3 separate regions of the Homo sapiens genome follow, and all the other regions are linked to region 1. Evidence: fine-mapped expression QTL. A gene starts in region 1. Each other region holds a variant in brackets. All regions are shown on one strand. Distances are from middle to middle.

What was found. PIP is the estimated chance that this variant, and not a neighbour inherited with it, causes the effect. A credible set is the group of variants that fine-mapping cannot tell apart.
Region 2: its variant is the best candidate, but not a certain one, in a credible set for the expression of ZSCAN18 in whole blood (INTERVAL, PIP 0.67).
Region 3: its variant is the best candidate, but not a certain one, in a credible set for the expression of ZSCAN18 in CD4 T cells (CEDAR, PIP 0.84).

Annotation. Positions count from the first base shown.
Region 1 is chr19:58,096,385-58,100,624 of GRCh38, reverse strand. It overlaps ZSCAN18 (zinc finger and SCAN domain containing 18), which reads left to right and starts at 2,394. Exons shown (of 7, transcript NM_001145543.2): 1 at 2,394-2,451.
Region 2 is chr19:58,193,660-58,197,899 of GRCh38, reverse strand. All of the region lies in intron 4 of ZNF274 (zinc finger protein 274), which reads right to left. Among named protein-coding and RNA genes, the nearest start is that of ZNF274, 13 kb to the right of the region's middle. The variant T/A (reference allele first, on the strand shown) is at 2,361.
Region 3 is chr19:58,173,681-58,177,920 of GRCh38, reverse strand. It overlaps LOC124904784 (a long non-coding RNA gene), which reads right to left. Exons shown (of 2, transcript XR_007067360.1): 2 at 332-1,384. Among named protein-coding and RNA genes, the nearest start is that of ZNF274, 7.3 kb to the left of the region's middle. The variant G/T (reference allele first, on the strand shown) is at 1,774.

The sequences.
Region 1 (4,240 bases):
ACATTTGATCTTTATCCCTGGTTCCTGGCACAGAGCTAAAAGCCTTGGAATTTTGTGAATAATAGGAATAGGGTTTGCAATTCATAAGGAGCCCGTTTCGACCACACCTGAGTTTATGCTAATGAGGTGACTCCAGTGGGACCCATAGATATCTTCAGGATGGGGATAGTCACCTTAAAGAAGGTATGGACCCTCTCTCTGCCCCACGATTGAGAGAGCTGGGTTGGTGAACACATCTGAGTGCTGGGAGGATGGCTCACCCAGACGGTACATGGATGCACTGCACCTTCAGTGCCCCTGACCAGACCTTAGCTGTGCATCTCTTCCATTTGGCAGTTCCTGAGTTATATCCATTAAAATAAACTGGAAAGACTGGGCATGGTGGCTCATGCCTGTAATCCCAGCACTTTGGGAGGCCATGGTGGGAGGATTGCTTGAGCCCGGGGGTCTGAGACCAGCCTTAGCATTATAGTGAGACCCCATCTCTTAAAAAAAAAAATTAGCTGGGTATGGTAGCGCACACCTGTAGTTCCAGCTACTCGGGAGGCTGAGGTGAGGATCACTTGAGCCTGGAAGGTCAAGGCTGCAGTGATTCATGATGGCACCACTGCACTCTAGCCTCAGTGACAGAGTGAGACCTTGTCTCAAAAAAAAAAAAAACATAGCTTTCAAAACTGAGCAATTTTTTTAAAAATTAGAAAATGGGCAAAAGATACGAACAGATACTTTAATGAAGAGGGTATACAAATGCCAAAAAAATCATTAAAGTGTGCTCAAACTTGTTAGCAATTAAGGGAAATGCAAATTGAAACCACAATGATATATCAGTACATACCTATCAGAATGGCCAAAATAAAAAATAGCAAAACACAAATGCTGATAAAAATGTGAAGTGGATTCACACATTCATTGGTGGTGGGAGTGTAAAATGGTCCAGCTACTCTGCATGAGAGTGTGGCAGCTTCTTACAACACTAATAAGCACGTGTTCATTGTGTGACCTAGAAACTGCACTCTTGGGCTTTTATCCCAGAAAAGTGAAAACTTACGTTCACAGAAAAATCTGTACACGAATGTTCATAGCAGCTTTATTTTTAATAGCAAAATACTTAAAACGATCCTAATATCTCTCAGTGGGAGAAGGTTTAAACTGCTATATACCATAGAATACTACTTCTCAATAAAATGGAATGAACTGTTGATACATACTACTTCAATGCCTCTCAAAGGAATTATGTTCAGTGAAAAAGCCAATCTGAAGAGGCCACATACTGTATGATCCCACTTATATGACACTGTGAAGGCAAAATTGTAGCAGTGGACTACTTAGATTAGCTGTTCCTGGGGTTATGGGTGGGGAGGGAGTGACTACCAAGAGGCAGCAGGAGGATTTTTGGGCAGTGGAGCTATTCTTTGTCCCGAGTTTGTTGGTGGATATGAGTTAAAATTCATAAAACTGAATACCAAAATGTGTGGTGTATGTAAATTTAAAATATATAAACTGTTCAGATATACATTTTAAAAATCAGTTCACACAAAAACGACCAAAATGGCATCCTCATAAGCGCCTCTATCTGGAAAACTGAAATGGGAAGCAGCTCCTGGCCCTATCCTGCCTTCCAGGGGGGCTACATTTATATGGGGCTTTGCCAAAGCCCTCACCCCAGCTGCCACTCACATTTCCCTCATTTCAGCAGCTCCTGAATCCCTGGGGTGGGTAATCTTTGAGTTCTATCCACTCCTTGAAACTGTAGAACCCATTTTAGCGCATCAGTGTCTCTGGGTCTCCACCTCTTGTCTCCCCAGTACTGGGTCTGCTGGTCCCTGTCTCTGTATCTCTGTCCAGATCTGTCTCAGCCTCGAGTGCTCCTTTTCTCTGGGTCTCTCTCTTTTCCTGAGCCTGAGCTGGTCTCTTTCTTTTCTTGAGCCCATGCTGGTCTTTCCCTTTCTTGATCCTGGGCTGGTCTCCCTCCTTTCTTAACCGTGAGCTGGTCTCTCCCTTTCCGTGTCCGACTCTGTACATCTCTGTTTCGGGGACCCCAGGGCGTCTTGGTCTGCCCCCGAGCGTCTGTGGGCCTTCATGCTTCTCTCCCTCCCGGTCTGCGCGTCTTTTTGTCTTTGTTTCTCCGTTTCTCACCGTCTTTGTTTCTCCGGGTCTCTGGCTGTCAGGGGTCTATTATTTACCCGCTTGTTTACTTCGTTGCCATGGTGCCCAAAATGACGCAGGCGCCGGAGTGGGCGGGACGCCGGGAGGCCACACTCGCGTCTGATTGGCCATGCGCACTGTCACCTGTCACGGCTCCCTTGCTCGCCCCGGTGCGCGGCACAGCCTCGCGGCATTGTGGGAGTCGTAGTCCGCGGTGAGGCCCAGTGCGCAGGCGCAGTTTGCCGGCCGCCATCGCGCACTGGGGCTCCGGGCGGCTGGGACCGGCCTGGGGTAGCTGCGCAGCAGGTGGGTCGGTCCCGGGGATGCAGCGCGGGGGTCAGAGAGCGACCCCAACAGGGTAGACGGTGAGGACGCCTCAGTGGGCAGCGTTAGGGAAAGGGGCCAGGGTGTTCCCGGGGTTGGGGTGCGAGCCCCCGCTGTGCGTCCAGGAGGCCGAGGGTCTGGCATCCCTTCGCGTGGAGTGCGGGGCAGGGGCCGGGTCCCCCCGGAGGTGGCTGAGATCCAGATCGGTGAGGGGCCCTGCAGGCAGGTAGGGAACTAGTGCAACCCCCACCCCGTGTAGGCTCGTGGAGGGGAGGCGCTTAGGGCACCCTGTGGGTGGGAGAACAGGAAGGGGCGGCTCCTGATGGGGGAGAGATGAGGGAGGGGGAGGCTCCTGATGGGGGAGAAAGGGGGGAGGGGAAGGCTCCTGAGGGGGGCGAAAAGGGGGAGGGGGAGGCTCCTGAGTGGGGAAGAGAAGGGAGGGGGAGGCTCCTGAAGGGAAGAGGAGGGGAGGAAGTGGGGGCTGAGGGTGTGAGGATGTGAGGGTGTCCGTGGTGGGGGGACGCTGGGCAGGCTGTGGCCCCAGGGGCTGGAGCAGGGAAGGGATGGAGGGTGCGGGGACCAAAGGGGTGCCTAGAATGGGCATTGTCTCTGCTGCCCCCACCCTTGGAATATCTCGCCTCTCCCCAGTCACCTGGGGGTGGGTTCTGTTTGAGTTAGGTGTCTGCGCCCACCCCGGAGACCTCTCTCGTGGAAGAGGCAAGAGTGGGTGTACTGGCTTCGGTCCTGACCCAGGGGGTTGGGGTGGGGGCCTGACTCACCCTCCCATCACTCCTTCCCCATTTCCTTTCTCTCACCCTCCTGGGCTCCTTCCTTTTCCCAATCCCCCTCTACCCCCGTCCAGACTATCTGGCTTTCCCTGCTCTTGCTCCTTCCTCTCCTGTCTTCTCTCTCCCTGCTACCTTCCCTCCCCGCTTCCCCCATTTCTGTCTGCCCTCCTTCCACTTTCCCATATATTCGCCTGTGTCCTTGCTGACTCCTGGGCGAGGCTGAGTGGCACAGTCACTTGGTTCCATGTCACCTCCTCGGTTCCATTTCACTTCCCCCATCCCATCATGTCCTGCGGATGGTTTCCTGCCCTGGAGTCAGAGCGGGACCACGTGTCGCATCGAGTTGCTGTTTTCTGTGCATGATGCTTGAATCTGTGACTTCCTGGGTATTTCTGGCCTCGGGTTTTCGGGGAGCCTAGGCCAGTTGCGCAGGACATCTCTCTGGTTCTGTCTGTCCTGGCGAGTGGATCAGGGACCACAAAAGGCAGCTGAGATGTGAACGACGACCCTTACTCCATGTTTTTTCATTCTTTTAAAAGCACTTTTACCCCTTTTTATAATGAGTAAGTGATCTGTGGATGAAGCCAGGGCAGACCCTGGGAATATCCGGCGACCCATCAACAACCACATCCCATGCATTGAGCTTCCCTGGCTGATCCTCAGGCCTGTGGCTGTGGGGTGGTTTGCTAGACCCTGCCGATGAGTGTGGTGGGATGGAGAGCTGCGATGAATATTCCTCAGGTGGCCAGGGCTGGGCCCACGGAGGGCCAAACCAGGCTTGAGCTCTGCTCAGCCCAGGATGAAGGGGATTTGCTGCAGGACTCTGGAGACCCACCAGGCTTGGGACCCCTCAGCTCAGCCACCCCTCACCCACCGTGGAGCTCTCTGCCTCAGCTTCTGTATTCCAGGCCTCTGGGTGCAGCAAAGCCTACAGGACTGGCTCAAGACTTGTGCAGATTGCTTCATTTGCTGAGGCTGGGGGG
Region 2 (4,240 bases), 97 kb before region 1:
TATGTGGGAGGTGGCAGAGAATGTAAAGTGTTCTTCAATAAAAGATCACAAAGCATGAAATGACTCTGCTTCACTGAATTCCAGCCAAAACATGTTTGACAGCCACCCAACATTCCAGACTCAACCTAGTTGCCAAGAATGTGGGCCCCGCAGAGTTCTTTGTAGCACTCTCTCAAGATTTTCCTTTACCCTCTCTTACCTACCCTTTTGTTTCAAAGCCTGGCCTTGTATTCAGTCTTCTCTTTGAAGACATATTCTTGTCTCCTGCAACTTCTTCAGACATCTATTCACTCAACGTTATGTACTGAGTTCCTAGTAATTCAGTCATTGTGTTAGCAAATGGGGACATACAGAAGTAAAAGAACACCTGCTCTCATCCATATTTTAAATATTTGTTCTAGATGTTCAGGTCAGATAATAAGCAAATTAGAAGAGACAAGACTACATTTATATACTTATCAGTGTTTTATGTAGGGTTTGCCTTCTCTACGACATGATATAAAAATAGGATGAGACATTTCATTTTTATTATTCAACGGGGTTCTTTTCAGTGTATATTTTTTTCGTTCTGTCACATAAGGTGAGAGTTAAGGCTGGTCATTTGTCTGCACAGATTTCATTCACAGGATGTTTGCCCATATGAGTCCTCTGATGCTGAAAACAATGAGGACTCCTACTGAAGGGGTTCCCAAAATGCTGTGTTCAGAGAGGGATCCTTGCCAGTGAGTTCTGGGACACCCGAAGGCTTCCCAGCCCTATGTTCTCAGGTAATCTCTAGTACAACTTCTGTGATGCTGAATAAGGGAGCTATGCATAAAACCTTTCCCACAGCAATTATATTCTCATGGTTTCAGAAGCTCTTAGATGTAATACTCAATGTAAGAACTTTTCCAGTATGAATCCTCTCAAGATAAGACTGAGTTAGGCCAGAAGTCTTTCCTCACGTGATCATATTTCTGAGGTTTCTTCCCTGTGTGAGTTCTCAGATGGTGAAAAGTTCATGAAAAGGACTTACTTCATTTGGGGTGTTTGCTGGTTAATGTCCCGTGAAAGATGGCAAAGACATTAAAGAGGGCAAAAACATTAAAGAGGGCAAAGACAGGCTGAAAGTGAATTTTTTCAAACTAAACACATTTACTCCATCTTATTCTTGGATAAAAGAATGGTATGCTGTTGATCACTCTATAGCCTATGTGACCCTCTCAAGCTATACAAAGGATGGAATCTCAAGAAGAATTTGGCTTTCTTCCTCCCAATAAAACACTCACCTCATCAAACTTATTTTTCAGACTCATGTTTGGTCTATGTTTCAAAAAAGCTGCTAAGTTCTTATTTGTAGGACTCATTTCCTACTTAACTTTGTTTTTTTTTCTGCAGTGGCAGGATCCCAGCTCACTGCAACCTCCACCTTCCAGGCTCAAGCCAACCTCCCACCTCAGCCTCCCAAGTAGCTGGAACTATAGACACACGCCACCATGTGTGGCTAATTTTTTCTATTTTATGTAGCAATAGGGTTTCGTCATGTTGCCCAGGTTGGTCTCAAACCCCTGAGCTCAAATGATCTGCCCACCTTGGCCTCTCAAAGTGCTGCAATTACAGGCATGAGCCGCCGTGCCTGGCCTCTACTTAACTTCTTGACAAGTAAAAAATGTAAAATGCCCTGCAGGGTTTCCTAAATCATGACCTTCATAATAGTCTCTTCCCTGCATTCCTTTCCTAATGACTAAATCTGTAATAGTTTACATCTCAAGTATTCCACCCAAGAGCCACATATATGGCAATGGTTCTTGAAGGGACATTAGTGAGAGCTGAAGATTCGAGTGCCACCTATTTTCCCTACATTGCTTACTGTCACAGCATCATTCCTCATTCAGTGCTTTCCTGAGGATGAATGCCATTTGTCCTAGCATTTGTTTCCCTTCTACTTAAACCAGGGGTCCCCAGCTGCCAGGCCATAAACTGGTACCAGGCTGCACGGCAGGAGGTGAGCGGCAGGCAAATGAGCATTACCATCTGAGCTCCACCTCCTGTCAGATCCGCAGTGGCACTGGACTCTCACAGGAGCATGAACCCTATTGTAAACTGTGCATGAGGGATCTAGGCTGCATGTTCCTTATGAGAATCTAATGCCTCATGATCTGGGGTGGAACAGTTTCATCTCAAAACTATCCCTCCCCACCCCAAGGTCCACGGAAAAACTGTCTTCCACAAAACCGGTCCCTAGTGCCAAAAAGGTTGGGGACTGCTGACTTGACTGCCATTCTTGCTATCATGGGAAGCTCGAGAAGCACACAGAGTTGTCAAAATGGCCCAAGTCTAAACTCAATACCAGTTCTGTCCATTAATGAGATGCACAGCTA[T/A]GCCACTGTTGGGAGAAACTGACCACTTTAGAAGACAGTTCCCCGTCTCACACTCACAGTAAAGCATTCCATTCTAAACACCTATGACTTCCACACGGATGTTTTTATGTGCTGTGTGGATCTCCTTCTTAGGTCTAAATAGGTGTATTCGACTGGATTTGCAAACCCTTGAGTGTCTCTATGGTGCCTTCTCATTCATCTGTCATTACAAGAATCAGTTAAGACATGGGACAATTCAAAAACTTCAATCAATGTGAAAGCTATTGAGTTATCCATACTATTAGTGTGTATATATATACACACACATATATACACACACATATATGTGTATTTTTTTTTTTTTGAGACAGAGTCTCACTCTGTCGCCAGGCTGGAGTGCAGTGGCACCATCTCGGCTCACTGTAACCTCCACCTCCTGGGTTCAATCGATTCACCTGCCTCAGCCTCCCGAGTAGCTGGGACTACAGGTGCACACCAGCATGCCCAGTTAATTTTTGTATTTTTATTTATTTATTTATTTATTATTATTATTATTTTTTGACATGGAGTCTCACTCTGTCGCCCAGGCTGGAGTGCAGAGGTGCTATTTCAGCTCACTGCAAGCTCCGCCTCCCGGCTTCATGCCATTCTCCTGCCTCAGCCTCCTGAGTAGCTGGGACTACTGGCGCCCGCCACCGTGCCCGGCTATTTTTTGTATTTTTAGTAGAGATGGGGTTTCCGTGTTAGCCAGGATGGTCTCGAACTTCTCAGGTGATCCACCCGCCTTGGCCTCCCAAAGTGCTGGCATTATAGACATCAGCCACCGCGCCCGGCCGAAGAAAAAGATTAAAAATTATTTCAACACAAAAAGTAAAAAACAGACCAGGTGTGGTGGCTCACACCTGTAATCCCAGCACTTTGGGAGGCCCAGGTGGGAGGATCACTTCAGGTCAGGGATTTGAGACCAGCCTGGCCAACATGGTGAAACCCTGTCTCTACTAAAAAGTCCAAAATATCAGCTAGGTGTGGTGGCAGGTGCCTGTAGTCCCAGCTACACAGAAGGCTGAGGCAGGAGAATTGCCTGAACCTGGGAGGTGGAGGTTGCAGTGATGTGAGATGGGGCCACTGCACTTTAGCCTGGGTGACAAAGTGAGAGCCTGCCTCAAAAAAAAAAAAAAAAAAAAAAAAAGGTAAAAAACAAAACACAAAAAACACAGAAAACACAAACCCCTTATTTCCTCCCCTCAGCAAAGTCTAGGTCTTTACCAGACATCCCCACATCCTTGGCTAATGCCAAAAACTCAGAAATAATTGTTCTCCCTTATCATACACACACACACACCCACACACACACATATTTTTGAAACAAAGGCTGGAGTGCAGTGGTGCACTGCAATCTCAACCTCCCAGGCTGAAGTGATCCTCCTGCCTCCACACCCAGCTAATTTTTGTTATTTTTTTGCAGAGACTTGTATTCACCATGTTTCCCAAGCTGATCTCAAACATCTGGCCTCAAGCAATCCTCCTGCTTTGGCATCCCAAAGTGTTGGGATTACAGGTGTGAGCCACCACATCTGACCCTTTTATCTCATATGTGATATAGATATATAGATATAGATATAGATATATTTTTTTGAGACCGTTTCTTGCTGTGTTGCCCAGGCTGAAGTGCAGTGGTACAATCACAGCTCAATGCAGCCTCAAACTCCCAAGCTCAAGCAATCCTCCTGCCTCAGCCTCCCAAGTAGCTGGGACTACAGGGATGCAGCACTGCATCTGGCTTATTATTTTTATTTTTAGTAGAGATGACGTTTTGCTGTGTTTGTCAGGTGGTCTTGAACTCCTTAGTTCAAGTGATCCTCCCACCTTAGCCTCCCTAAGTGTTGGGGTTCCAGTCATAA
Region 3 (4,240 bases), 77 kb before region 1:
AAATAAAGTATGAGGCCAGGCTCATACCTATAATCCCAGCACTTTGGGAGGCCAAGGCGGGAGGGTCACTTGAGCTCAGGAGTTCAAGACCAGCCTGAGCAACGTAGCAAAACCTCATCTGTATTAAAGCAAAAAATGTAGCTGGATGTGGTGACACACTCCTGTAGTCTTAGCTACACAAGAGGCTGAAGTAGGAGGATCATGAGCTAAGGAAGTTGAAGCTGCAGTGAGCCCTGATTATGCCACTGCACTCCAGCCTGGGCGACAGAGCTTGACCTTGTCTTAATAAATCAATCAATCTGATATGAAATAGACCTGAGTGCTGTAATGATTGGGAAAGGAAACCTAAAAATGCATTTATTAACATTAACATACTTTAAAAACCCAATTGAAAACTTTAAAAATCAAGATTACAATAAGCTAGGCAGAATACAAAAGATGGACAAATCAACACCACAAAGCAATGCACAAAATCTATACCTGCAACAAGTATATTGAAATGGAGGTTCCTGTCACAATAGAATCATAAAAACAAAATGTCTGAAATTAGTTTGTTGGGAAATGTGAAGATAAGTTTTGGAAGAATTACAAGTAAACTTACATAAATGAAAATGCTTATCAAGTTCAAGGATAGATGGCCAATGAGTAAAGTGTCAGTTACCCAAATTCATCACTAGATACAATGAAAGAGCACATAGGATTATAACAGAGCCTTTTGGGAGGCTTGACCCTTGAACTTTCTTTTGTGCTTCCTCCTCCTCCAGTGTGAGAAAGAACTGATTGCTATTCTTCACATAACCAATTGGCTTCAAACTCATCTTAAGGAGAAACGCCTGCAGAAATGACTAGTTCAGGCATGTTCTTTGCTTTTGCCAATAAATTTGGACTTCAGAGCCATCAATAGCATACAGTTCTTATCACGGAGTTATTTAGGGGCCATGGCGAGGAAATCATTTTGTGGTTCAGCAAGTTGGCACAGTTTATTTTGAATGGAAGTGTGTGATTAATTCTGGGCACCTATTTTCACCCAGAGAGGACCCATGCCACACTCTATGAACAGAGAAAGAGAGACAGCATCCACATCTGCATGGATCACTTGAGTCCACCACATCCCAGAGTGTGCTTCCATGTCACACTCTTGGACTTGTGGAATATCTCCTTTCCATCGTTGCAGCCCCTTGGCTGTGCCTCTGAGGCTACCAGGCCCTTCCTTCTGACTGCAGTGGCCTCTGCTCTGCATGAGATGTCTGCCTTGCAGGAAGTGTCTCTGAGTCAGGGCAGCAGGGGCCATCCTGAGCCAGCAGAACTGGTTACCTGTGATGGCTGCTCCTAGGAGTCCCCAAACTGTGGCTTAGCATGACCAAACGAGACTTGAGAGCAAAAGCTGGTGGGGAGCAAGAAAGGGTTATCATGTAAGGTGTAGTTTTGGCAGAAGTGACAGTATGCCACCATTCATGATCTTAAATTTCACTGACTGGGCACAGTGGCTCACATCTGTAATCCCAGCACTTTGGGAGGCTGAGGTGGGTGGACTGCTTGAGGTCAGGAGTTCAAGACCAGCCTGGCTGATATGGTAAAAACCTTTCTCTACTAAAAATACAAAAATTAGCCAGGTGTGATGATGCATGCCTGTAATCCCAGCTTCTTGGGAGGCTGAGGCATAAGAATTAATTGAACCCAGGAGGCAGAGGTTGTAGTGAGCTGAGATTACACCACTGCACTCCAGCCTGGGTGAGAAAGCAAGACTGACTCAAAAAAAATGTTTGTTTGTTT[G/T]TTTTTCATTAAGTCCAGGCTGGGCACAGTGGCTCATGCCTGTAATCCCAACACTGTGAGACCAAGGTGGGAGGACTGCTTGAGCCCAGGAGTTCAAAACCAGCCTGGGGAACATACTTGCCCAGTTTTTTGTGTGAGATTCCATCCCTACGAAAACAAAACACTAGTTGCGTGTGGTGGTGTACACCTGTAATCCAGGTACTCGGGAGGCTGAGGTGGGAGGTTCGCCTGAGCCTGGGAAGTTGAGGCTGTAGTCGCACCACTACACTCCAGAGACTCTGTCTCAGCACAAATAAAACTAAAAATTACAAAATAAAAAATGTAATTAAATCCAGATGTAAGGGCTTCTACGGTTGACCCCTGGGCTCAAGTATGAGCTGTAACCAGTCACTGTCCCTCCTTTGGCTCAGCCCTCCCCAGTGTATGGCCTTGGTTCTTTCTGAGGCACACGTCTTTGCAGTCCTAAGATGGTGATTACAGTTCCAAGTCTAGCATTTAGCCGTGCAACATTTGGCTGAAGAAGTTGGCATCAGGAAGTGTATTTGCTTTCTATTGCCACTGTAGCAAATTACCAAAACTTTGTGTCTTAAAACAACAACAAATTTATTGTCTCACAGCTCTGGAGGTCAGAAGTCCAAAATGGGTCTTACTAGGCTAAAATAAAGATGTCAGCAGGACTGTGGTCCTTCTGGGGGGTCTAGGAGAGAATCCATTTCTTTGCCTTTTCCAGTTTCTAGAGACTACCTGCCTTCCTTGGCTTATGGCCCCTTCCTCCAATTTTAAAGCCAGCAGTGTAGCATTTTCAAATCTCTCATTCCATCATCACATCATCTACTCTGATTCCTGCCTCAAGTTATACAAAGACATTTGATTAAATAGGGCCCGCCCCAAGTAATTCAGAATAATCTCCCCATCTCAAGAATCTGGCCAGGCATGGTGGCTCATACCTGTAATCCCAACACTTCGGGAGGCTGAGGCAGGAAGATTGCTTGAGCCAAGGAGTTTGAGACTGGTCTGGGCAACAGAGCAAGACCGTGTCTTAACAACAACAAAAATAGCTGGGTGTGGTGGCATGCATCTGTGGTCCCAGCTACTCAGGAAGCTGAGGCAGGAGGATCGCTTGAGCCCAGGAGTTCCAGGCTACAGTGAGCCATGATCACACCACTGCACTCCAGCCTGGGTGACAGAGTGAGACCCTGTCTCTAAAACAAAAACAGATCCTTAATGGCATCTTCAATGTCCCCTTTGCCATGCGAAGGTAACATATGTATAGGTTCCAGGGTTTGGAATGAGGACATCTCTGAAGGAAAGGGGGCATTACTCTCCCTACCACAAAGAAGTAATACAACATTTTGGCCGGACGCAGTGGCTCACGCCTGTAATCCCAGCACTTTGGGAGGCTGAGGCGGGCAGATCACGAGGTCAGGCATTCGAGAACAGCCTGGTCAACACGGTGAAACCCCTTCTCTACTAAAAATACAAAAAATTAGCCGGGTGTGGTGGTGCGCGCCTGTAGTCCGAGCTACACAGGAGGCTGAGGCAGAAGAATCGCTTGAACCTGGGAGATGGAGGTTGCAGTGAGCCGAGATCGCGACACTGCACTCCAGCCTGGGCAACAGAGTGAGACTTTGTCTCAAAAAAAAAAAAAAAAAAAAAGTAATACAACATTTTCGGAAGACTTCTCTGTTGTTGACTCGCTCTGACCCTGTTAGCCAGGATTGACACATGCATCCATGTCCTGGCTGGGAGAAAAGCTGGAAAAGAGTGTAACTGGTTTTTTTGGCATCTGTAGAAGGCGCCAGACTGTGCTGCAATGAAGGTGGGTGGCACAGCCACAGTAGCTGGCACAAAAGTCTGCTTGGGTGGAGCCCATCTACCCCAGAGACCTCTCCTCACATTAAGTTATAAGGCCACAAACCAGATCCGGATGGAAGTTTCCGGACTTGCTGCCAGCAAAGATCTGGAACTGAGGGTCAACAGCTCATGCCTGCAATCCCAGCACTTTAGGAGGCTGAGGCAGGAGGATCACTTGAGGCCAGGAGTTAAAGACCAGCCTGGGCAACATAGTGAGACTCCATCTCTACCAAAAAAATTTAAAAATTAGCTGGGCATGGTGACATGTGCCTGTAATCCCAACTACTCAGGAGTCTTAGGTGCGAGGATTTCTCGAGCCCGGGAGATTAAGGCTGCAGTGAGTTATGATCAGGCCACTGCACTCCAGCCTGGGCAACAGAGTGAGACCCTGTCTCCTAAAAAAAAAAAAAAATGGAACTGAGTGAAGTCCCAACATCCAGGGAGCAGCTACCAGGACATGGGGACCCTGGTGGAGGATTGAATGGGGTGCTGGAAGGGAAAGATGGCATTTCGCTCAGGTAAGGGAGAAGTGTGAGCTCTCCCTTGGGTATAGGAGGGAAGCCAGAATTTCAAAACGTGACAGAGAGAGAGAGACAGAGAGACAGATTGTGAA